Homo sapiens: one gene and its partners. Each later gene encodes a partner of the first gene's protein in a complex. Each region holds a gene or a part of one and is shown in the gene's direction. Other genes may lie near its edges. The genes, in order: TMEM237, CC2D2A, TMEM231 and B9D2.

What was found.
Region 2: TMEM237 (region 1) and CC2D2A share a complex: the UniProt entries of both Homo sapiens proteins name them as parts of the tectonic-like complex.
Region 3: TMEM237 (region 1) and TMEM231 share a complex: the UniProt entries of both Homo sapiens proteins name them as parts of the tectonic-like complex.
Region 4: TMEM237 (region 1) and B9D2 share a complex: the UniProt entries of both Homo sapiens proteins name them as parts of the tectonic-like complex.

The regions. Positions count from the first base shown.
Region 1 is NC_000002.12:201,619,670-201,626,522, reverse strand, and holds the end of TMEM237 (transmembrane protein 237), read left to right. Parts: intron 1-375; coding exon 376-497; intron 498-2,200; coding exon 2,201-2,268; 3' UTR 2,269-6,337; downstream 6,338-6,853. UniProt on the Homo sapiens protein: Component of the transition zone in primary cilia. Required for ciliogenesis.
Region 2 is NC_000004.12:15,598,866-15,602,071, forward strand, and holds the end of CC2D2A (coiled-coil and C2 domain-containing protein 2A), read left to right. Parts: intron 1-663; coding exon 664-841; intron 842-2,371; coding exon 2,372-2,560; 3' UTR 2,561-2,687; downstream 2,688-3,206. UniProt on the Homo sapiens protein: Component of the tectonic-like complex, a complex localized at the transition zone of primary cilia and acting as a barrier that prevents diffusion of transmembrane proteins between the cilia and plasma membranes.
Region 3 is NC_000016.10:75,553,251-75,560,554, reverse strand, and holds the start of TMEM231 (transmembrane protein 231), read left to right. Parts: upstream 1-4,345; coding exon 4,346-4,484; coding exon of another isoform or gene 4,485-4,581; coding exon 4,582-4,751; intron 4,752-7,304. UniProt on the Homo sapiens protein: Transmembrane component of the tectonic-like complex, a complex localized at the transition zone of primary cilia and acting as a barrier that prevents diffusion of transmembrane proteins between the cilia and plasma membranes.
Region 4 is NC_000019.10:41,361,150-41,369,105, reverse strand, and holds the start of B9D2 (B9 domain-containing protein 2), read left to right. Parts: upstream 1-4,956; 5' UTR 4,957-5,148; exon of another isoform or gene 5,149-5,159; intron 5,160-5,180; exon of another isoform or gene 5,181-5,342; intron 5,343-5,582; 5' UTR 5,583-5,586; coding exon 5,587-5,674; intron 5,675-7,956. UniProt on the Homo sapiens protein: Component of the tectonic-like complex, a complex localized at the transition zone of primary cilia and acting as a barrier that prevents diffusion of transmembrane proteins between the cilia and plasma membranes.

The DNA.
Region 1 (6,853 bases):
CACGTAGCATCCAAAAGTAGTCTTTTTTGAGAGAGTGGCTAGGGACATTAGGTAAAGAGAAAGCAAAGATACTTTATTGAGGATTAATGTCATGGTAGTTGGAAGGAAAACTTTTAGAGAATTTTCTTGGGAATACTAACTTTGCATTTATATGAATGTATACAGCAGATCTGTTCAGAGTTTAAATAACCTTTGAACCCTTGTTCTCATTATATATGTGGTATATTTTACAGGGAAATTATATTTTCTTTCACACTTTACTTGTTATTTCTCTAGGAGAGGACTGCTGTTTTTTCTTAAAGTTCATAAAATAGATATATTTGTGTATATGAACCAAACTGAAGGCACTTCTAATGAGTGTTTCTACATTTTTAGGGAAGCAGGAATTGAGGAACAGATTCTCCAGCCATGGATTGTGGTGAATCTCGTGGTGGCTCTTCTGGTTGGATTATCTTGGCTATTTTTGTCTTATAGGCCAGGCATGGATCTTAGTGAAGGTATTAAAGAAAAAAAATAGCATAAGAATATCCTGAAATCTTCTATAATGGTTTTATAAACCTCCTTTTAATAGGTATAGCTTATAATATTCCAATAACAAAGACACATTTAAATTAAAATGATACAAGAAGAGAGAAAATAAAGTGGTGTAACAGAATGCCAAGAGAAGCAGGGAGGAGTGTCTAGGAGGGCTTGAGTCTGGAACTACTTAATGAGGGGCTTCTGTGGCCCTTGTGCATTTTCAGGAGGTATTTCTTCTCTTGGAACCCTTCAAGTAATGTAGAAAAAGTCTTTGCTCTTCACTTCTCTTAGTCTCCTGCTGATGAATTTTGAAATAAATCATGCTTTGTCTACATAGCCTCTCTGTCGGACACATACTCAAGTCAATTATTCTTCCTTCTCTATTTGGTACAAATTCTTAACCGTTCATTGGCTAACAGTGTTTAGTACTCTTTTAACATGCTCAGTGTGCAGTGATTCACTCATCTCTAGTCCCCAGACCCCTTTTGGAACACCTGAAGAAGAATCATCATATTAGCAAACTGCTAACCTTTTATGCTGCTTGAGGAACTGTTTAGTATTTGTATTGTAAATTGTGTTTCCTTGGCCAATGTTCAACAGTTTTACCCTTGAATATCTTTTTTTTTTTATTTTTTATTTTTGGAGATGGAGTCTCGCTGTGTCGCCCAGGTCAGAGTACAGTGGCTCGATCTGGGCTCACTGCAAGCTCCGCCTCCCGGGTTCATGTCATTCTCCTGCCTCAGCCTCCCGAGTAGCTGGAACTACAGGCGCCCGCCACCACGCCCGGCTAATTTTTTGTATTTTTAATAGAGACAGGGTTTCACCATGTTAGCCAGGACAGTCTCAATCTCCTGACCTCGTGATCCGCCCGCCTCGGCCTCCCAAAGTGCTGGGATTAAGGCGTGAGCCACCGCGCCTGGCCAAACATCTTTTATGGATATTTTCTGGGTCTTGGTTATTATTTTATTTTTTATTTGACCAACTATTTACAACCTATCTGCCTCAGAAGCCTTAGCATGCAGAATTTCGCCAACATCTATGCTAAGTAATAGTTTAAATGTAGAAAATGTCAGCTAATAACATTCTACATTGTGGCTGGGATCAAAACTGCATCTGGATTGTGCAGTATTCAGTCTAAATATTTCCAGAATCCTGTTCTTTTAAGGCCATGTTAGTCATACAACATGTGGATTTAAAAAGTAAGTATAAAATGAGATGATAATACCTGGCTTCTTGCGTTGTTTTGATGATTAAATGGGATGACCCATTTAAAATATCCTGGCACACATCTCTTGTTAGTTCCAAGTCCTTCCTCTGTATCTGTCCCCTATGTTTCAGATGATCTGATCACTGTAGAATTAGACATTTTAGCTGTTTAATGATCTTTGATTCTCTAAGTGACTTAAATTTCCAGGTAGGATTGTGTATATTGTCTCTATTACATTTTACTTTTAAGGGGTCTATAATTTAAAATTTAAATATTTTAAAATGTAAAACTTGTACATTTGTTATCAGCTTACCTTTTAAATCATATTTCACTGTCAAGAAATCTTACTTGAGGGCTTTCTATTAGTATATATTATGTCAATTTTTTAAAGGACTATTTATAAATAAGCTATACAACTCTGTTGGAGGTACTGGGAAACAATTTTAAGTATGATCTGTTCATTTTCTTCTCCAGAGTTAATGTTCTCCTCAGAGGTGGAAGAATATCCTGATAAAGAGAAAGAAATCAAAGCCTCTTCATAATACCAGCTCACCTTTGGAGGAATAATGACCCAGTATTTGTCCCATTTTTGTTTTTAAATGTATTTTTATAAGATGTATACATGTGTATTTGTAATAGATTTTTTGATTATATAATACTGAAACATCTCTCAATATTATGAAAAATGTTAAAATTGTGTTTGCTGTTTATGTCTAAACATTAATTTGTCTAGCATTATCATCTTAATGACAAAGGGAATAATGAACTAGAAACCAGCAAGTGAAAGTGTTTATTTCCTATTTTCTCAAAACAGTTGTATTTATAACTATTACCTTAAAAAGCACTGGTTTAGAAAAAGCCATAACTTAAATAGTGTTATAAAATATATATCAGGTTTAAACATAAATTTAGCGAATATGGTAGAAGGGAAAAAAGCCTTCATTTTTGACCTCCCCTTACTGAATAAATTGAAATATGAAGTTTGTCTTTTCTGAAACTGGCTTAGTGATTGAGTATCATGTAATAATTATAATATAATTTAGCTTGAAAGATGCTCTACATTATGACCAATAAAAAGGGAATGTATGTTTTGTTTGAAAAATTATATAACCTAAATTTTTTACCTAGAAGTAACTAAAAAGTTGCTTCTCATTATAATCTGTACTAGTGGTTCTCATATCTGGTTGTACATCAGGATCATAGAGGGAGATTTTAAAAATCTATGTAGCAAAAGAGGCTGAGCAGGGCAAGGCTCAGGGGAATAAAGGAGAGACCTGTGAGCTTGTGGGCTCCCAGTTGACATCTGCAGTACCCTTTCCTCTGTCCCTTTTTTCTGAGTGACAAGAAATAGGAGTAGAAATTCACCATCTCTGTTCTCCAGCTCTTTGTCAGAGAGGTTTCTGGTTTTCCAGGAAATCCCCCTCTTGAGATGGGTCCTGCACTGGGAAAGATCTCTTCAGAACTATATCCAATGGTACCTCAGCTGTTGTATATGAGACCCTAAAGCTCAAGTTGAGGAGAAGACTAGCTATGGGAAAAAATGTTTCAAAGGCTGTTGAGCACATCAATAAAACTATTGAGCCTGCCCTGATTAGCAAGCACCTGAATGTTATAGAACAGAAGAGGATTGACAAATTGATGATAGAGACAGTTGACCCTGACAATAGGTCTAAATTTGGAGTGAACATTATACTGGGAATCTCTTTTGCTGTTTGTAAGGCTGGAGCTGCCGAAAAGGGATTCTCCCTGCTGTCACAGAATTGTGAATTTGCTGGCAATTCTGAAGGCATCCTGCTAGTTCCAGCTTTCACTGTGACCAGCAATGGTTCTCAATCTGGCAATAAGCTGGCAGTATAGGAGTTCATAATCTTCCCCGTCAGCAAACTTCAGGGAAGCCATGCTCGTTAGAGCCAAGGCTTAGCACACTTGAGCCGTGTCATCAAAGAGAAATGTGAGAAAGCTGCTGCCAATGTGGGGGATTGTGGTAGGCTGCATAATGTCTCCTAAAGATGTCCATGTCCTAATCCCTGGAACTTGTGAATATACTACTTTACTTGGCCAAAGGGATTTGCAGATATGATTAAGGTTATGAACCTTAAAACGGGGACATTATCCTGTATTATCCAGAAGGGTCCAGTGTAATCTTATGAGTCCTTAAAAGCAGAGAAGAAAGCCTTTTATGTCTGTGGTCAGAGAGGTCAGAAGTTATGATATTGCTGGCTTTGAAGATGGAAGAGGGGGCCATGAGCCAAGGAGAGTGATGACCTTGCAGCTGAGTACGGCCCTTGGCCAACAATGAGCAAGGAAATGGATTTCAGTCACATAACCACAAGGAACTGAGTTCTATGAGTATCCCAAATGAGCAAGGAAACAAATCCTCCCCTAGAGCCAAGAAAGGAAGGCAGCTCTGTGGATACCTTGGTTTTGGCCTGGTGCTGCCCATGTCATACTTTTGACATACAGAACTGTAAGATAGCAAGTGTATGTTGACTAAGCTGCTAAATTGGTGGTGATTGCTTATGGCAGCAATAGAAAGCTATATATCCTAGAGAATAAAGAAGGCTAGAGCTGCTGTGGAATGCACTTGGGAAAGCTGGCTACATTGATAATATGTAACTGCCATGGGCATAGTTGCCTTTGTATTCTTCCAGGTCTGGGAAGTACAACTTAGACTTCAGATCTCGTAATGACCCAGGAGGCATATAAACCTGAGCAGCTAGTGGCCCTGTACAAGTCCTTCATCAGGGAAAAACATTGAGTATTCCCTGATTAAGGACTTGTACAGAGGACTCTGTTTTCCCTGGTGTTTCTGGTGTGTCTCAAAAATTGTTTGACTGTGATGACAGGGAAGTTTGGAAGAAGTTCACTGCTAATGCATGTCTCCAGGAAGCAGGGAATGATCTCACAGTGACACTTGAGGCACATTGCTGAGGCCGTCGATGAGAATTCATGTAACTTTCTCCAGCTTACAGTGGACTAGATTGACATGCAAGCTGATCCAGTCCAATTGGTAGGGCATCATGGTTTCTCATTACTCACTGACTTAAAATACTTTTATTGCCATCCTGGTGAAGCACTGCACTGGGTAGATAACACAGGGGCACCTTGCTGATCAGAGCCCTTGGCCAGGTACAAAGAGCTCAGTTTCTAAAACTCTGTCATTTCAATAATGTTATAAATTGAATCATACAGTATGTAATTTTATGGGATTCGCTTTTTTTCTGTTGATCTCTTTTTTTCTGAGTCATCTCAGCTGTTGTGTGTATCAATAGTTCATTTCCTTTTACTGTTTTGTTTGGTTTAACTCATTGACCTATTGAAGGATATCTGGGCTCATTCCAGTCTGTGAATAATGCTGCTGTGGACATTCATGTGCAAGTTTTTGTGTGAACATTAAGTTTTCATTTCTTTAAGATAAATGCCCAGGAGTGAAACTGATGGGTTGTATGTAGTTACAAACTGCCAAGCTGTTTTCCAGAGTTGGCGGTACCATTCTAATTTCCCATGACAATTTTTTGAAGAGTCCAAGCTAGTTGCTTTAGAGTGCCTCACCTACATTTTTTAATTGTCTGACTTTTTCCTAATGACATCACTTAATTTGTTCCTCAATCTCCTGAATTTCCTATAGACTGGAGGTTAGGTCTGGTGGTTTGATTAGATTTTTTAAAAAAATATGACTTCATCTGTGATGCTGTGTACTTTATGTTGCATAACATGAACCCTAAGAACAGAGTGAGCTGCTGGACAGCAAGTTTCATGGGGTGCAGTAATTAACACACCACATAGTATAAATCTGAAATAATGACAAATGTGTTAAGGGCCTTGGGATATTGGGCCATGTACTCTGAGGAGCACAAGGTGAGGTGCAGGTTCCTGCCCCTAAAGAACTCTATCTTTTGAGATTAGCAACTAACAGTGTGAGCCCACTAATAGGATGTGAAAGTTGTCAAAATCAAGTTCTGGTCATTGTGTTAAAAATCCTAACAAATAGAGCTGGGGAAGGCCGTGAAAGGACGATTTTCATGCACAGATGTCTGATAATGAGGACTATCATTAAAAGACTGCACAAAACCACACCTTGCACAAAGGCCATCACAACCTGACACACACAAAAAATACTTCTATGAGGACATTTGCCCAGCAACTCCCTGTCCAATGTCCAACTGGCAACATCCTTGTTATTGATCCTTGTAGCCAAGGATAATTCTCTCAAAACAATCATTTTTGCTTTAAAAACCGTTGTCTTCCTTGACCTCCCTGTATATGCACATAGTTTACTGTGGCACTTGTATTCTTATTGCAATGCCTACTCCTGAATAAACATCATTTTCTTTCAGAGAGTCTCCCTCTCTGTTATTTAGGCTGACAAGGATATGCCAAGAAGTAGCTTGGATATAGCAGTTAACTCTGCCTTTAGGATATGTGTATGGGGATATAAGAGTTAACTAAAAGCTGACCTTTGAGTTGGTCCTTGAATAAAAGAAGAATAGATTCCAAAAATAAGAGGAATAAATAATGATCCTGAGCTAGGAGAGTACATTTTGCAGACCTTTGGTTTCCATATTAAGAAATTCAGATTTTTATGTACAATAAAGAAGTTCTGGAATTCTCTGGTTTTGTTCTGTTTGCATTTATTTATATTTTTAACTTTTAGGTTCAAGGGTACATGTGCAGGTTTGTTATATAGGTAAATTTTGTGTCATGGGGGTGTACAGATTATTTCATCACCCAGGTAATAAGCCTAGTGCCCAAAAGGTAGTTTTTGATCCTCTCCCGCCTCCCACCCTTCGCCGTCAAGTAGGCCCCAGTGTCTGTTGCTCCCCTCTTTGTGTCCATGTGTTCTCATTGTTTAGCTCGCATTTATAAGTGAGAACGTGGTATTTGGTTTTCTGTTCCTGTGTTAGTCTGCTTAGGATAATGGCCTTCAGCTCCATTCGTTACTGCAAAGGACTAATACGGGGGCAGTGAAAGGGATGGATGACAGCAGGTTGGCAGACCCATGAGTAAATCATTGCAATTGTCTCGTGTGTGTGTTGTCCCAAATTAGGTGCCATAAAGGGAAAAGGTAAGTAAGATTCAGATATTTAGGGTCAGAATTTTAAAATGTGTCTGAATGTTTAAGATTTT
Region 2 (3,206 bases), on another chromosome or scaffold:
AAAACATTTCATGGCCAAGCGCAGTGACTCACACTTGTAATCTCAACACTTTGGGAGGCCAAGGCAGGCGGATCACTTGAGCCCAAGAATTTGAGACCAGCCTGGGCAACATAGCAAGACCTTGTCTCTATAAAAAAGAAAAAAAAATTAGCCAGACATAATGGCATGCACCTGTGGTCCCAGCTACCAAAGAGGCTGAGGTGGGAGGTTCACTTGAGCCCGAGAGTTGAGGATGCAGTGAGCTGTGATTGTACCACTTCAATCCAGCCTGGGCAACAGAGCAAGATCCTGCCTTTAAAAAAAATTAGTAATAATAAACTTTTGCTGCATGTATTGAATTCAGCTATCCCCAAGTCATTCAGTACTCCCTCTTCTGTGTTACATTTCAAGCATCTGTTATAGCTCTTAGGATACACATACTTTCTATTTATAGGACTATTTCCCATCTCAACTCATATACAACCCTTAAGGACAGGACTGCATGTTAATTTTGAATCCCCAGGGAGTAGCCCATTATTAGACATTAACTATGCCTGGATAATCACAACTCCATCAACAAAAATATAGTTATACAATCATCTGAATCCCCACTACATACTACATACATTTTTTAACAAGGGAAAAGTGAGTCACCAAAAAATGGAATTTATGTTTTGTGAACAGGATTGAAAAAATACTAAAAGAAAAAATCATGGACTGGAGGCCACGCCATCTGACTCGGTGGAATAGGTATTGTACCTCTACTCTGCGTCACTTCTTGCCTCTGTTAGAAAAAAGTCAAGGAGAAGATGTAGAAGATGACCACAGAGCAGAACTGCTAAAACAGCTGGGAGACTACAGGGTAAGTTACAAATGGATCCTAAACTGACTGTGGATTTCCTTGTTTCAAATTGGAAATTAGCCAATAATAGGTTTCTGGAATCAAAAGACCCACGTTGCTCCCAGAAGTACATATTTAAAGCAGCATAAACTAAAAACTGTGATCATAAGTTTTAAACCTCAATAATCATGAAATAGCAAAATACCACCATTTTTCATATAAGTATCCCATGAAAAATACCTTTTATGAAATACATTTACGTATCAAAAAAATGAAAACATCTGGCTAAATCATGTTAGACACAACTGTGCATAAGGATCAAAACACTCTAGAGCAGTTTTTTTAAGGATATGGTTTTATACTGATTGCTTTTCATTGCTAAGAAAGGTGGTTATTAATAGACGATATACCCTCTTTACTGCCTGCTGCTATGTTCACATGCTATAGCTGGATAATAAAACCTACAAAGCAGGCTCGTAACTAAAACTTAACAGTAAGCCTTACTAGCTAAACAGTGTGAAGGTCAAATTAGATCACTCACTGAGTAAAATTTATCCTTTAACTTATAAGGCAGGTTCTCAGCCAGGATATTTTCAGTTCAAGTGTCAGAAAACTCAAAAAGGCTTGAGCAATAGAGAATCTACTGGCTTAAGTAAAGCTTAGAGGGTAGCTATCAGGGCTGTCCCACTCTTTTGCAAGTCCTCCCATTCTGCCCTCCTCTTCCGTATGATGGCATCATCCTGAGACTGGGTTTCCTCATGGAAGCAAATGCTGGAACACTTACAGAATTCACATCTGCGCACATACTACCCAAAGCAGGAGAACATCACGTGCCATTATTCCTAACAAGTTTCCCAAGATTCCCTCTGAGACTCCCTTTGATCACTTGCCCATCCCCGTGGATCAATCATTGTAGCCAAGGGGACGAAAATTATTGTCGGGCGCTATGGCTCACACCTGTAACCCCAGCACTTTGGGAGGCTGAGGCAGCGGATCGCTTGAGCCCTGGAGTTCAAGATCAGCCTTGGCAGCATGGCAAAACTCCATCTCTACAAAAAATACAAAAAGTAGCCAGGATGGTGGCACTTGCCTGCAGTCCCAGCTACTCAGGAGGCTAAAGTGGGGGGACCATTTGAGCCCAGCAGGAGGCCGAGGCTGCAGTGGTGAGCCATGATCATGCCACTGCAGTCTAGCATGGACAACAGTCAGACCTGTCTCAAAAAAAAAAAAAAAAAAGAAAAAAGAAATGTATTTGTTAGTTTAACCTATGTATCTGGAATTACAATGGTTACGATGCATACTAGGTACTTTCAAAAAGAGGGAACAGTGATGGAGTGACTAACAGGTGGCTTATACACCTATATGCAAGGAAAACAAAATGGATATTAAGCAGCTCTCGATTTTCTGTATTGCTAATAAAAAGCTGAGTAGAAAAACACAAGCAAATAACTGAGATCCAGAACACTTATCTTAATTGCATACATTTACGTAGGAAAAAATGTATTAAATCTTCAAACTTCACTAATGACTACAAATGTTTTTTCCCTTCAGTTCTCTGGATTTCCTCTTCACATGCCTTATTCTGAAGTGAAGCCTTTAATTGACGCTGTGTATAGTACTGGAGTACATAATATTGATGTTCCTAATGTTGAATTTGCTTTAGCTGTATACATACACCCATACCCCAAAAATGTTTTGTCTGTTTGGATCTATGTTGCCTCTCTTATACGCAACAGGTAATTTTTTTCACTGTACTTTCTGTATCATGTAAAAACTACACTTAGGATATGAGAAAATTTTAAATTATATGCATCACATCAGAAGAACATATTATTGGCAAATAATAAAATTATCAACTGTTTTCAAACTGTGCAAAGTGTTCTATTTAGCAGTCTGCCTTGTGTCTGCTACTTGACCCTGAAATTCAATTGAGACTACCCACAGTACGATATATTATGAGCTTCCTGCCTCTATTCCTTTGTACTTACTTACCTTTTGCTTGGGCAAATATTAACAGCAATGGAATGAAAGTGAGAGAAACTTAACAAGTTTTACCTTAGAGCAAGGTAAAGCTTTAAAGAGAGCATCATTAGAGCCTTTAGAGTTCCTCCTCCTTTGCTGTGTTTAATTCAAATATTAGTTGAAATAAAAAGCAGTAGTGAGTTATATTCCATCAAATGATTCTTCATCTTTAGAAAACACTAAGACAATTTGCCTGAACTGAATGTTTACCAGTTTTTATTGCTACTCCTCCTCCTCTCTCCAAATAAACAAAACAAATAAATATCCAAGACTGCAAGATTACTTCATCTTCCACAGGTTTGCATGTACAGGCATACCTCGGAGATAGTGTGCACTTGGTTCCAGACCATTGCAATAAAGTGAA
Region 3 (7,304 bases), on another chromosome or scaffold:
GAGCCCAGGAGGTAGACAGAGGGAGACCCTGTATAAAAACAACAACAACAACAAACTACATTGCCACCCCAGAAAAGCTTTTAATCAAGAACAAGTAGTATTGAACCTGATATTTCAAAAGCATTTTGTGGCTGATGACGTTGTCGTCTTGGACTGTAGTAAGGACCCTAGGATGGTTTTCCCAAATGGGCAGTCTTGACCTCTCTATTAAGTCTGTGATGTTAGGATGTCAGCTGTTCTCTTCATCTAAAAGCCACTTCGAGGTTGCTTTCAAAGTAGTGGGAGTAACTACTGGACTCCACCCAGCACAAACCTCACGCCATCTCCTGACACTGCAATGTGATCCTTCAGGGCTTTTTTTTTTTTTTCCCTTTCTTCAGACAGTCTCGCTCTCGCTCTGTCACCCAGGCTAGAGTGCAGTAGTGCAGTCACTGCTTACTGCAACCTCTAACTCTTGGGCTCAAGCAATCCTCCTTTCTTAGCATCCCAAAGTGTTACTGGAAAGGGGTCCCAATCCAGATCCCAAGAAAGGGTTCCTGGCTCTCAACACAGGAAAGAATTTGGGGCAAGTCCACAGAGTAAAAAAAAATGGCTACTCCATAGACAGAGCAGCAGTATGGGCTACTCGACTGAGTAAATTTATAGTTATTTCTTGATCCATATGGTAAACAAAGGGTAGATTATTCCTGACTTTTCCAGGAAAGGGGCAGAGATTTCCCCAGAACTGAGGGTCCCTCCCCTTTTTAGACTATATAGGGTAACTTCCGGACATTGCCGTGGCATTTGTAAATTGTCATGGCACCAGTGGGAGTATCGTTTAGCATGCCAATGCATTACAATGAGCAGATCATGAGCAGTGAGGACGACCAGAGGTCACACTCAAGGCCATCTTGGTTTTGGTGGCTTTTGACTGGCTTTTTTTCTTTTTTCTTTCTTTTTTTTTTTTTTCTCTGAGACAGAGTTTCGTTCTTATCACCCAGGCTGGAGTGCAATGGCGTGATCTCGGCTCACTACAACCTCCGCCTCCCGGGTTCAACTGATTCTCCCTCCTCAGCCTCCAGAGTAGCTGAGACTACAGGTGCCCGCCACCATGCCCAGCTAATTTTTGTATTTTTAGTAGAGACAGGGTTCCAGGCATGAGCCACCATGCCCGGCCTTGGCTGGCTTCTTTTTAACTGCATCCTGTTTTATCCACAGGGTCTCTGTAACCTGTATCTTGTGCCATCCTTCTAGCTCATACTGTGACTAAGAATGCCTTACCTCCTGGGAAGACAGCTCAGTAGGTCCCAGCCTTATTTTACTTAGCCCCTATTCGAGATGGAGTTGCTTTGGTTCAAACACCTCTGACAAAAGTGCTAAGATGAGCCACTTCACCCAGCCTCAACAGCCTCTTGACTGGTCTCCCTGACTTCTGTTTTTCCTCACCCCTCACTCAATGACCCCATCCTGGTATACTGTAAACCTAAAATAAAATTCTAAGCTCCCAACCATCTGAATGGAACCCTTGTCTCAGCCAAGGGCATTCCAAAGTTAACCTGAAAAACTAGTCTGGCCATCATGGGAAGTGGGGAGTCAGACGTAACTCATTATACCCTCCTCTTTTTGGAATTCAGACCCAGCTGACCAGTATTAGCATCAACACATAGATCTTAAGACTGATATTAATAGAACAGACTCTTAAAGTCTGATAAGAAACATTTACAATCTGTTCTCTCTGAAGCCTGGAGGCTTCATCTGCATGATAAAACATTAGACTCCACAACCCCTTATTGTTTTTTGTTTTTGTTTTTTTTTTGAAATGGAGTCTCACTTTGTCACCCAGGCTGAAGTGCAGTGGTATGATCTCGGCTCACTGCAGCTGCTGCCTCCCGGGTTAAAGCAATTCTCCTGCCTCAGCCTCCCAAGTAGCTGGGATTACAGGTGGACACCGCCAGATGCAGCTAATGTTTTTTTTTTTAATACATATTTTTGGTAGAGACAGGGTTTCACCATGTTGGCCAGGCTGGTCTTGAACTCCTGACCTCAAGTGATCTGCCTGCCTTGGCCTCCCAAAGTGTTGGGATTACAGGCGTGAGCCACTGTGCCCCGCCCACAAACCCACACATTCCTTTCTATTGATTCCAGGTCTTTAGATAATAACCAGTTGACAATTGGAAAAATCTCTGAATCTGCCAATTCTGTGGTCTGGAAGCCCCACCCCACCTCCACTTGTCTCATCTTTCAGTACTGAACCAATGTACATCTTACACGTATTGATTGATGTCTTATGTCTCCCTAAATGTATAAACTCAAGTTATACCCTATCCACCTTGGGCGTATGTCATCAGGACCTCCTGAGGCTGTGTCACAGGCATGTCCTTAACCTTGGCAAAATAAATTTCTACGTTGATTGAGACTTGTCTCAGATACATTTTGGTTTACACTACTGACATGCTGTCATTAGAGTGACTTTTCCAAATCACAAAGCTTATCATGTCTTTCCACTTAAATGTCATTTTACTGACCCTTTAACAAATTTACTTATATTTAAATATTTTGTATTTATTTTTTTAGAGACAAGGTCTCCTTCTGTCTCCCAGCCTGGAGTGCAGTAGTGCATTCATGGCTCACTGCAGCCTCCTGGGCTCAAGCCTTCCTCCTGCCCAGGCCTCCCGAGTAGCTGGACCTACAGGCATGAGCCACTGTGCTCAGCCACTCAGGACCTTTTTGTTGTTGTTGTTGTTGTTTGAGATGGAGTCTCGCTGCCACCCAGGCTGGAGTCCAATGTGTGATCTCCGCTCACTGTAATCTGTGCCTCCCGGGTTCAAGCGATTCTCCTGCCTCAGCCTCCAGAGTAGCTGGGATTACAGGTGCCCATCACCATGCCTGGCTAATTTTTGTATTTTTAGTAGAGATGAGGGTTCACCATGTTGGCCAGGCTGGTCTTGAACCCCTGACCTCAGGTGATCCGCCCACCTTGGCCTCCCAAAGTGTTGGGATTACAGGCGTGAGCCACCGTGCCCAGCCATTCAGGGCCATTTGATGAAGAAATTGGCTGTGGACCATAGATTTTTTTAAAAAGTCCTTCTACCATGTTAGAAATATTGGTTGGGGGTGGTGGCGGGGGGGTGTAGGCATTCAATTAAGCAATAAGCCAGTGATCTTTGGGGAGGACCATATATTCCTGTAAAACTCGCGGCTGAGCTGTACCCAACACAGGGTTAACGAAGTGCATCAGAGCTTTGTAGTAATTCCACTCTATCCGTGGAAGAGCCAGGGGATTTGTGTTTCCGTGTCTGTCTTGCATGGGAGCATAGTGGAAGCAACAGAAAATCTGGGGGCAAAAGCACCTGGCTTTGATCTCAGCCCAGGACCAGGTCCAGGACCACGGCCAGGCTTGTGACTGACTGGACTTCAGTAGGAACCACACTGGGGGTTAACAGATGACACAAAAGCAGGTGTTCGTTCTGTGCGGGAGACGCGCTAGGGGAGAAGAAAAGGCACACACACAGTACCTTTAAGGGTAAGCAAGCTTTATCCCACGTAAATGGCAATGCAGATATTATAATAAGCAAATTAATATAATAAGCAGATTGATATAATAAGCAAATTGCAATGGGAAGAGGAGAAGGAAAAAGACATATATATATATATATTTACACTCACCAGACTATGGAGGATTCACCTCCAGACTGGGAAGCAACGACCTGGGCTCCAGAGCCGGCCACTCGTCAGTGCACAGACGAGGAGAGGTCTCATGAAGCTTTTTGGCGTGGTCTGGGACCCTAGATCTTTTTGTAACATGTTGTCTAGCATGAGGCCCAGTCACGAGGGCCCTTTGCGACTGGGCTCAAGGAACACAAAAAGGTCAACTTGTTTTTGCGATTGTTGTTTTTCAATAACTGACGTATAGGAGTAGACTGAAATAGAGATTTCTCCGAAACAGCGCTGGATGAACGCCTCAAGGGGCTCCCACAACCTGTTTAGGGACTTGGTGACCATTGTTTGTGTCCATGTCAGTTGAAATTTAAATATTTAGTTCTTCCTCCTCAGTGTTCAAGTCAACTTTTATGGGCATCTTATTTTACACAAATGTTAACACAGACAACAGCCACGACTCTGGTCCACGGAAACGTTCTATCGCCGCCCAGCCTTTACGCAAACGTACACAGCTCGAAAAGCTAGGCCGACCGTCCCCGGCAGCGCCACGCCCGCTAACCCCGCCCCCGCCACTGGCTCCTTTCGGTGCGGCCTTGCTATTGGCTCCTTTCTGTGAGCCGTCGGTTGCCGTGGAGACCGAGGCGATGGCAACCAGGAGAAGCCAAACTTGGTCCCCCGGCTCGCGGAGTGCCTGCGAGCGGTGCTCATGGCGCTCTATGAGCTCTTCTCTCACCCGGTCGAGCGCAGTTACCGCGCGGGGCTCTGCTCCAAAGCCGCGCTGTTCCTGCTGCTGGCCGCTGCGCTCACGTACATCCCGCCGCTGCTGGTGGCCTTCCGGAGCCACGGTGAGCCTGCCCCGGCCGCTGTGCCACGAGGCTCCCCGGGCGCGCTCGGCCAGGGCCGGCCTCCCTAACCGCCTCCCTACCGCCCTCTTTAACTCAGGGTTTTGGCTGAAGCGGAGCAGCTACGAGGAGCAGCCGACCGTGCGCTTCCAACACCAGGTGCTGCTCGTGGCCCTGCTCGGACCCGAAAGCGACGGGTTCCTCGCCTGGAGCACGTTCCCCGCCTTCAACCGGCTGCAAGGGGATCGCCTGCGCGTCCCGCTCGTTTCGGTGCGTGGTTCCCGCCTGGGCCTGGGGCAGAGTCGGGGATAGGGTGGGGATGGGGACTGGAATGAGGATGTGGGGCGAGCGGCCCCGGCCCTGGGGAGCCCAGCTTTGATCCTAAGGACTCGCGAACCCGCAAAGGTGGCGTTTCATCTCCTAGGACCTAGGGAATCGATCTTCTGTTTCATTCTGCTTCTCCCAGATGTCCCCGGCCCCCAGAAAGTTAGCCATGCTGTCAGCGTGTGCGCCCTGACACAGAGTCCAGAAGTGTGGGGGCAGCCTGTGTCTGCCCGGGTCACACCCGCGGGCCTGGCCTGATGGAGGGTGTTTGTGAAAGTCCATTTAGGAGCCTGGAAGGCCGCGCGCTGTTAATGTAGATAACCCCATTCTGTCGCGGCGTTTCTGCATCACACCACTATAGGAACGGAAAGGGCAGCATTTTTATGCAGACCTGACCCCTGGAAACCAAGGCGCTGATTGGTTAAGCGGCCTTCCCAGAACGCGCTGTGGCCGAGTCACGCCTCCCTGGGTTTGTCCCATTGGAGACTGCGCCATCCTGAAGCTGTCGGGATGAAATGGAAGCATGTTACTGTCTGTAATTTATTTATTTATTTTTAAATTTTTTCACCAGTAGAGCGCTGAGAGGAATCTGTAATTTAGTATTTGCTTTGAGATAAGCGAATGCTTCCTTTGTAGTCACTCCTTTTCACTCATTTTCTGAAAACGTTTTCCTTTAGAAGTATGAAACTTCTGGTTTTCCTTCTTTCAAATTCGAATCTCTTCAGACATATCTAAGATGATTGCCCTACAAGCCAACCTTGTATAGCTGAGGAGAAAAGAAAATCAGACTTGTTCCCAGCAACTAAATAAAATTGTTTTTAAAAATCCGATTGGTCGTATAAATAACTGCAAAAAAAATAGTAATAGGTTGATGCAAAAGTCATTGCGGCTTTTGCCATTAAAAGTAATGACAAAAAACCGGAATTACTTTTGCACCAACCTAATATGATTCAGGTTACTTTTCTCCTATTACTTTATAAATGTTCTTATATTCTGATTACAAAAGTGCATGCTCATTCTAAAATATGATAGAGTTACAGGTAGATATAATGACAGAAATTGAAGGCTCAGTTTTGTATATGTATCAATACTTATTAATCAGCTGTATTCTTTTTGAGGTTTGCTTTGACTTTTTCACTATTAGGGACAACATTTCTTTTTTTCTTTTCTTTTTTCTTTTCTTTTCTTTTTTTTTTTTTTTTTTGAGACACAGTCTTGTTCTGTTGCCCAGGCTGGAGTGCAGTGCTGCAATTCTCTGCTCACTGCAACTCTGCCTCCTGGGTTCAAGCAATTCTCGTGCCTTAGCCTCCCGAGTAGCTGGGATTACAGGCTAATTTTTGGATTTTTAGTAGAGAAGGGGTTTCACTATGTTGGCCAGGCTGGTCTCGAACTCCTGACCTCAGGTGATCCACCCGCCTTGGTCTCCCAAACTGCTGGGATCATAGGTGTCAGCCACTGTGCCCGGCCTAGGGACAATATTTCAATGAACAAGGTTTTGACTAAATCTTATGCCTTTAAACATCAAATTTTGAGGAATTGGAATAGCAGCTCTTTGATGAAATGGTATAAGTACATAGAAAACTAAGCAAATAATTATTAACTGCAGGGAAATGAAAAGTAAGGAAAACTGAGAACCAAAATGTTATCAGAGTTGTGAATAGGATTGACATAGTCTTAATTATATGAACACTGAATGTTTACTAAAAAGAGATTTTAACTCTATTGGGGGTAATGAGAAAGGTATTGGGTATGTGATAGGGGATGGTGGGAGGAATTGGGGGAGAGAAGAAGCTAAATCATCTTTCCTTGTGGGAACTCAATAGAGAATGCCTAAAACTGAGAAACTGAGAATTTTCAATGCAAATGTTATCTCAAGACCTGGAGATACATTTCTAAATGATCAGGTAAATGAGATAAAAATATTTGCCGCCAGAAATGATAGCTCACACCTGTAATCCTAGCACTTTGGAAGGCTGAGGCAGGAGGATTGCTTGAGCCCAGGAGTTCAAGGCCAGTGTGGGCAACATAGCAAGACCCCACATTTCAAAAAAATAAAAAATTAAAAAGAAATAGAGAAGTGGTACAATTTGCCCTAGCTTTTCTTCTTTTCTTTTTTTTTTTTTTTTTTGCAACAGAGTTTCACTCTGTCAGCCAGGCTGGAATGCAGTGGCACAATCTCAGCTCACTGCAACCTCTGCCTTCTGGGTTCAAGCAATCCTCTCGCCTCAGCCTTCCAAGTAGCTGGGACTGCAGGCATGCACCACCACTCCGGGCTAACTTTTTTGTGTTTTTTAGTGGAAACAGGGTTTCACCATGTTGGCCAGGCTGGTCTAGAACTCCTCAACTCTGGTAATACACTCACCTCAGCCTTTCAAAGAGCTGGGATTACAGGTGTGATTACAGGTGTGAGCCACTGCTTTGAAGTGAACAGAGTCTGGACTGGAACTCAGTATTTCTTATGCTATATCTTAAAATCTTAGCCCTTATTGCAACAAACTA
Region 4 (7,956 bases), on another chromosome or scaffold:
TCTCACTCAGTTGCCCAGGCTGGAGTGCAGTGGCACAATCACAGCTCACTGTAGCCTCCAACTCTCAACCTAAGCGATCCTCCCACCTCCGCCACCAGAGTAGCTGGGACTACAGGGGCATGCCACCACACCCAGCTAATTTTTTGTATTTTTTGTAGTGATGGGGTTTCATCATGTTGTCCAGGCTGCTCTCAAACTCCTGGATTCAAGCAATCTGCCCGCCTTGGCCTCACAAAGTGCTGGGATTACAGGTGTGAGCCACTGTGCCCAGCCCCATATTCTATTGGTTAGAAGCAAATTACAAAAACTAGCCATACTGAAGGGAAGGAGAATTAGGCTCCACTTACTGAAAGGGGGCTGCCCAAGCATTTGTGGATATATTTTAAAACAGCTTCAGGCCGGGCACAGTGGCTCACACCTGTAATCCCAGCACTTTGGGAGGCTGAGTCAGGTGGATCACTTGAGGTCAGGAGTTCAAGACCAGCCTGGCCAACATGGTGAAACCCCGTCTCTACTAAAAATACAAAAATTACCCGGGTGTGGTGGCACATGCCTGTAATCCCAGCTACTTGGGAGGCTGAGGCAGGAGAATTGCTTGAGCCTGGGAGGCAGAAGTTGCTGTGAGCCCTGGCCCACAGAACGAGACTCTGTCTCAAAAAAACCCAATAACCACCCCCCCCAAAAAAAAGGTGACAGGTTTTCACTCTGTCACCCAGGCTGAAGTACCTTGGCATGATCACAGCTCACTGCAGCCTCAAACTCCTGGGCTCAAGGGATCCTCCTGCCTCAGCCTCCTAAGTAGATGGGACTGCAGACATGTGTCACCATGCCCTGCTATTTTTTTTTTAAACGTTTTCGTAGAAATGAGGGTCTCACTACGTTGCCTAGTCTGGTCCAGAACTCCTGGCCTCAAGTGATCCTGTTGCTGTGGCCTCTCAATGTGCTGGGATTACAGACAGCCATGAACCACCAGGCCTGGCCAACTTTCGATAATGTGGTTAGATAATTCAAACTTAAAGCTGTTGGAACTTTAAATTATTCCAAGCCTTGAGAGGAATGTTGCTATGTAGCCTGAGTCACGTAGCATGCAGTTACAACTTCTGCTTTTTCCTGTAAATGATTAAGAATGACCAAGCAGTGCCAGAGATAAGATCACCTCAGAACATTACTCCTAGGCCGGGTGTTGTGGCCTCACATCTGTAACCCCAGCACTTTGGGAGGCAGAGGTGGATCACTTGAGCCCAGGAGTTTGAGACAAGCCTGGGCAACAGAGTGAGACCATGTCTCTACAGAAAAAATTATTGAAAAATTAGCTGGGCATGGTGGCACACGCCTGTAGTCCCAGCTACTGGGGAGGCTTAGGCAGGAGGCTTGAGCCTGGGCGTTCGAGGCTGCAGTGAGCTGTGATTGTGCCACTGCACTCCAGCCTGGGTAACAGAGCAAGATCTGTTTGTTGTTGTTTTGTTTTGTTTTTGAGACTTTGTCTCACTCTTGTCCCCCAGGATGGAGTGCAATGGCACGATCTCAGATCACTGCAACCTCCGCCTCCCAGGTTCAAGTGATTCTCCTGCCTCAGCCTCCCGAGTACTTGGGATTACAGGCGCCCGCCGCCATGCCCAGCTAATTTTTGTATTTTTAGTAGACACGAGGTTTCATCATGTTGGCCAGGCTGGTCTTGAACCCCTGACCTCGTGATTTGCCCGCCTCAACCTCCCAAAGTGCTGGGATTACAGGCGTGAGCCACCGCGCCCAGCCCCAGAGCAAGATCTTATCTCAAGAAAAAAGAAAGGAGAAAGAAAGAAAGAAAGAGTACTCCTCCTCCTATCAGAATGTTAACGCAATCTTCCCTGCAGCATAGCAAGATGTACTAATGAAACTGTTGTAACATATGTACTGGTCCTGTAGCCTGGAATAAACTCTATAGTTAATCATATTTTCCTTTCTTTTCTTTTTTTTCTTTTTTGAGAGTAGAAGTCTGGCTCTGTCGCCCAGGCTGAAGTGCGGTGGCGTGATCTCGGCTCACTGCAACTGCTGCCTCCCAGGTTCAAGTGATGCTCCTGCCTCAGCTTCCCAAATAGCTGACACCACAGGCATGTGCCACCACACCCATCTAGTTTTGGTATTTTTTAGTAGAGACAGGGTTTCGCTATATGTTGGCCAGGCTGGTCTCGAACTCCTGACCTCAGGGTATCCACTCTCCTTGGCCTCCCAAAGTGCTGGGATTACGGGCATGAACCACCGAATCCGGCCTCAATCATATTTTCTGAATCTCATTATTTATAGTTGACGATAATTTATTTTCTTTTATTTAACATGTATACATGGGAGCCTTCAGAATGAAGACCTCAGCCGGGAGCAGTGGCTCATGCCTGTAATCTCAGCACTTTGGGAGGCCAAGGTGGGCAGATCACCTGAGGTCAGGAGTTTGAGACCTGCCTGGCCAACATGGCGAAACCCCGTCTCTACTAAAAATACAAAAATGAGGCAGGAGGTGCCAGCCAGGTTGTGGAGAGCCTTGTCATGCATGATAAGACTTTGGCTTTTACCCTGAGTGAAATGGGGACCACTGGACGGGTCTGAGCAGATGGGACCTGACTTAGGTGTTCACAGGGTTCCAGCTGCATGTGGGGTGCAAACTAGAGGGGTTGGCAAAGGGGACCCCAGAGACAAGGTCCCTGTCATAGTCCAGGTGATAGATGAACTTGGACAGATCAAGGTGCAGGGCGACAAAGAGGTGAGAAGTGGGATTTAGGGTGTATTTCAAAAGTAGAGGCAGTAAGATTTCCTGATGGACAAAATGGGGGCTTGAGAAAAGAGAATGCAAGGCTGGTGCCACCACTAGGGGACCAGGGGCCCCAAGAGCTGAAAGGTTAGAGCTGTCTACCTCACCCACACAGCATCCAGAAATAAATAAATAAATAAATACATTTTCCCCAGCTCCAGCTTAAAGGACAGAAAGATCATTTAAAAGTGAAACCTCTGCCAGGTGCAGAGGCTCACTCCAGCCTGGGCAACAGAGCAAGATTCTGTCTCAAAAAAAAAAAAAAAAAAAAGTAAATAAATAAAATAAAAAAGAAAATACAAAAAGTAGCTGGGCCCAGGCGAGGTGGCTCATGCCTGTAATCCCAGCACTTTGGGAGGCTGAGGCAGAAGGATCACATGAGGCCAGGAGTTCGAGACCAGCCTGACCAACATGGTGGAACTCCATCTCTACTAAAAGCACAAACATTAGCTAGATATAGTGGTGGGTGCCTGCAATCCCAGCTACTAAGGAGGCTGAGACAGAAGAATTGCTTGAACCTGGGAGGCGGAGGTTGTGGTGAGCAGAGATCATGCCACTGCACTCCAGCCTGGGCGACAGAGGGAGACTCTGTCAAAAAAAAAAAAAAAAAAAAAAACCCGGCCGGTCACGGTGGCTAACGCCTGTAATCCCAGCACTTTGGGAGGCTGAGGCGGGTGGACCACCTGAGGTCAGGAGTTTGAGACCGGTCTGGCCAATATGGTGAAAACCCGTCTCTACTAAAAATACAAAAATTAGCTGGGTGTGGTGGTGCACGCCTGTAGTCCCAGCTACTCGGGAGGCTGAGGCAGGAGAATCTCTTGAACCCGGGAGGCAGAGATTGCAGTGAGCTGGGATCGCACCACTGCACTCCAGCCTGGATGACAGGGGGAGACGCCATCTCAAAAAGTAAAAAACCAAAATTATAACGAGGGTACAACATTTCAATAGGATAACATTTATATTAAACAATTCAATGGAATACTTCACTAGTTGATATATGCATTATTAATGGGGTCTCCCTATATTCGAACTTCTGGCCTCAAGAGCTCTTCCCGCCTCAGCCTTCCAAAGGGCTGGGATTACAGTTATGAGCCACCGCGCCTAGCCAATGGTAGCTTGTAAATACTTTGTATCTATTGGCCTGGCTGGGTGGCTCACGCCTGTAATCCCGGCAGTTTGGGAGGGAGAACTGGGAGGATAGCTAGAGCCCAGGAGGTCAAGACAAGACTGGGCAACATAGCAACATAGCAGGACTCCATCTCTTAAAAAAAAAAAAAAGAATTAGCCAGCCGTGGTGGTGCATGTCTGTGATACCAGCTACATGGGAGGCTGAGGTAGGAGGATCCCTTGAACCCAGGAGTTAAGAGGCTGCAATGAGCTGTGATCGAGCCACCGTACTCCAGCCTGGGTGACAGAGTGAGACCCTTTTAAGGAGCCTTGATGGGACCTGATGACTGGCTTGATGTGGGAAATGATGGCATCTAGGATGGCATCCAGGGACAACATCTCCATTTCTTGATTGATAAATCAATCAATAGGAAAGAGGATTTTCTGCAAATAAGGGAATCTTAGTTCCTCATTTCTCTTCGCTACCCCAACCGCTCCTTGCTCAGAATCAAGCAGTAACAGTGAACTTGGTAGTAGCTCCGAGAAGGAAGTTGGACTTATCCAACTTCCTTCCTTCCTTGTCCTTGAGAAACCTAGGGGAACTCTAAAACGGAAGCAGAACCCACTCCCCAACTTCTCCACTCTCTGAATGAGGAGTGATTTTTTTGCTTTGTTTTCCAGTTACAAGGCCGGGGATGTACACGAGGTCCTGGAAGGAATTCCCCCTTGGTCCTGGTTCAATCTCTGATTTGTGATCCCGGACCACAGAGAGCTCTTCGGTGGGGTAGGCGCAGCACGGAGCAGTTAGGGATTTGCTTTTTTGGTAAAGAAGGTATCTGGGAGAAACTGCACTCAAACTTCCTCAGCCACACTCAACATGGCAGCTTCCTAGCCACGCCCAAAATGGCGGAACCCTTTGCCGTAGCTGGAGAGACGCTATTTTCCCAAAATGGAGCGGAGGAGGAAAATGTCCATCACAGCTTCACCCCGCCCCCCGCAGACGGCTAGCACCAATTAGTAGCGCGCAGAGCGAGTACAAAGCTAGGGGAGGAGCCTGCTGTTGCCCCAGCAACAACCACGGAAACCAAGACGAGCGCGGTCGCGGAAGTATCGCGGCTTACATATCTCGCAGCCAGGCGGGTCCTGGGAGAGGCGCGAGCCAGGCCTGGTCGGCGCCCGCGGAGAAAAGAAGCAGTCAAGCCCATGAACTACAACCCCGGTTGCCGCTTTCTCCTCTCCTAACCGTTAAGTGCGCTAAGGTAGGAATGACGCATGCGCTGCGCTTAGAGGCGGGGTTAAGTCGGACCTGAACTCATAACGCATGCGCCTTATGGAGCTTGCTGGGGGAGGGAAGCGGGGTGGCTGGCGTGACGCGGAAGGCGGGTCTTTTGCGCTCGTGGGCGGAGCCATAGCCCCTTCGGGCGGGGCTTTCCGCCGACCTGAACCCGAAAAGGTTATTTTGGACTTCCCAGAGTTAAATGCTGGTTCCCCAGACAAGGGTCCCCCCATTTTTTCCAGGCTTTCATGGGTTGGCAATTAGGATCTGTGGTCAAGACCTCAGCCTCAGGGGTGTGACGAAGCTAGCTTGGAATCCTAGTACTACCCTTTACTTGCTGGGCCTCAGTTTCCCCCCCGTCAAATGGAGATAATACACTTACCTCACAGGGTTGTGATTATATTTTTCCCCTCCCAGGGCCATGGCTGAGGTGCACGTGATCGGGCAGATCATAGGGGCCAGCGGTTTCTCGGAAAGTAGCCTCTTCTGCAAGTGGGGCATTCACACAGGTATTCCCCCAAGCCTGGTTCATTTCCACACCAAGACCCCTAGCCTAGAGGCTACATGCTCCTTCCTCCACCCCTTAACGCAGACTCTTAACCTCATTTCCATCAGTTCTCAGTACTCCAGGCCCAGCCCACACCCTGTCCACATGAGTCTCAAGCTCCCATCTTTGTGTGTGTGAGGGGTGGGATACAGACAGGGTCTCTCTCTGCGCCCGGGCTGGAGTAAGGTGGTGTGATCATAGCTCAGTGCAGCCTCGAACTCTCGGGCTCTAGTGATCCTCCCGCCTCAGCCTCCTGAGAAGCTGGGACTACAGACACGCACCACCAAATCTGGCTAATTTTTTTTATTTTTTGTAGAGACAGGGTCTCGCTATGTTGCCCAGGCTGGTCTCGAACTCCTGCGCTCAAACAGGCCACCCACTTCAGCCTCTCAAAGTGCTAGGATTAAAAACGTGAGCCGCCACGTCCCAGGAAAGTAATTTTGTTCATGCTTCCCCAACTGAGGCCCTATAGAGTCATGGTATAGTGTAATGGTTAGGGTCATGGGCTGCCAGATCTGCATTTAAATATTAACTCCCCCACCTATTAATTGGAGACCTTTGGACTCGACCACTTTGAGCCTCAGTTTCCTTGTTTCAAAGTGAAGCTAATAGTAGCTAAGAAGCAGCACAGGTTTGAGGTTAAGAGCACAGACTGCCTGGGTTCAAAACCAGTTATTGCTTGTTAAGGCACCCTTGGGCTGATTATGTGAACTTGGGCACTTCTCTTCACCTCGACTTCCTTGTTTGTACAATGAGAGTCATAGAAATATTTACCTGTTGAAGTTGTCATGAGTACTAAACGAGTATCAACAGCACTTAGAATAGGAATAGGGCTGGAATAGGAAGTGCTCATTCAGTGTTTGCCTGGCTTATACAAGACTTTGATGGGGTCTTGTTTGTAAAGCCTGGGGTATGTTGTTGCGTGGCACAGATGAATGTCTATGAAACAGATGTGGCCATTTGGCATTATCATGTCTTCAGGCCTGAGTCCTAGTCCCTTTTTTTTTTTTTTTTTTTTTTTTGAGACTCGTTCTGTTTCCCAGGCTGTAGTGCAGTGGTGCAATCTAGCTCAGCCTTCCAGGTTCATGCCATTCTCCTGCCTCAGCCTCCTGCATAGCTGGGACTACAGGCGCTCGCCACCATGCCCGGCTATTTTTTTTTTTTTTGTATTTTTAGTAGAGATGGGGTTTCACTGTGTTAGCCAGGATGGTCTCGATCTCCTGACCTTGTGATCTGCCCATCTCGGCCTCCCAAAGTGCTGGGATTACAGGCGTGAGCCACTGCGCCTGGCCCTTTTTTTTTTTTTTTTTTTTTTGAGACAGAGTCTCACTCTGTAGCCAAGCTAGAGTGCAGTGGCACGATCTCGGCTCACTGCAATCTCTGCCTCCTGGGTTCAAGCGATTCTCCTATGTCAGCCTCCCGAGTGGCTGGGACTACAGGCACCCGCTACCATACCCAGCTAATTTTTGTATTTTTAGTAGAGATGGGGTTTCACCATGTCGGCCAGGCTGGTCTTGAACTCCTGGCCTTAAGTGATCCGCCTGCGTAGGCCTTCCAAAGTGCTGGGATTACAGGCGTGAGCCACTGCGCCTGGCCCTTTTTTTTTTGAGACAGAGTCTCACTCTGTAGCCAAGCTAGAGTGCAGTGGCACGATCTCGGCTCACTGCAATCTCTGCCTCCTGGGTTCAAGCGATTCTCCTATGTCAGCCTCCCGAGTGGCTGGGACTACAGGCACCCGCTACCATACCCAGCTAATTTTTGTATTTTTAGTAGAGATGGGGTTTCACCATGTCGGCCAGGCTGGTCTCGAACTCCTGGCCTTAAGTGATCCGCCTGCGTAGGCCTTCCAAAGTGCTGGGATTACAGGTGTGAGCCACTGCGCCTGGCCCCTGGGTCCTTTTTGATTCTACAGGTAAGTGAGGTGGAAGTTGAAATTCCCAGGAAATCGGAACCCTCCAGCTGATGGATGAGGGGCAGGCTCTGGAGTCAGACTTGGTTTCCAGGTTGGACCACTCACCTTCTCTGTGACCCTGGGCAGAGGCTGTCCCCTCTTGGAGCCTCAGTTTCCTCATTTGTTCTTCATAGGGCTGTTGGGAAATCTTGCTTTTAAGGAGCCTGACGCAGGGCCTGGTGCTTCCCTCAACTCAGCCCAGAAGGGAGTAATGACTAACCTGATTTTTATTATTTCAGGGAGTTGCTGGGGATGTTGATCCAGCCAAGAATACTGAGGCAGTTGGATGAAAG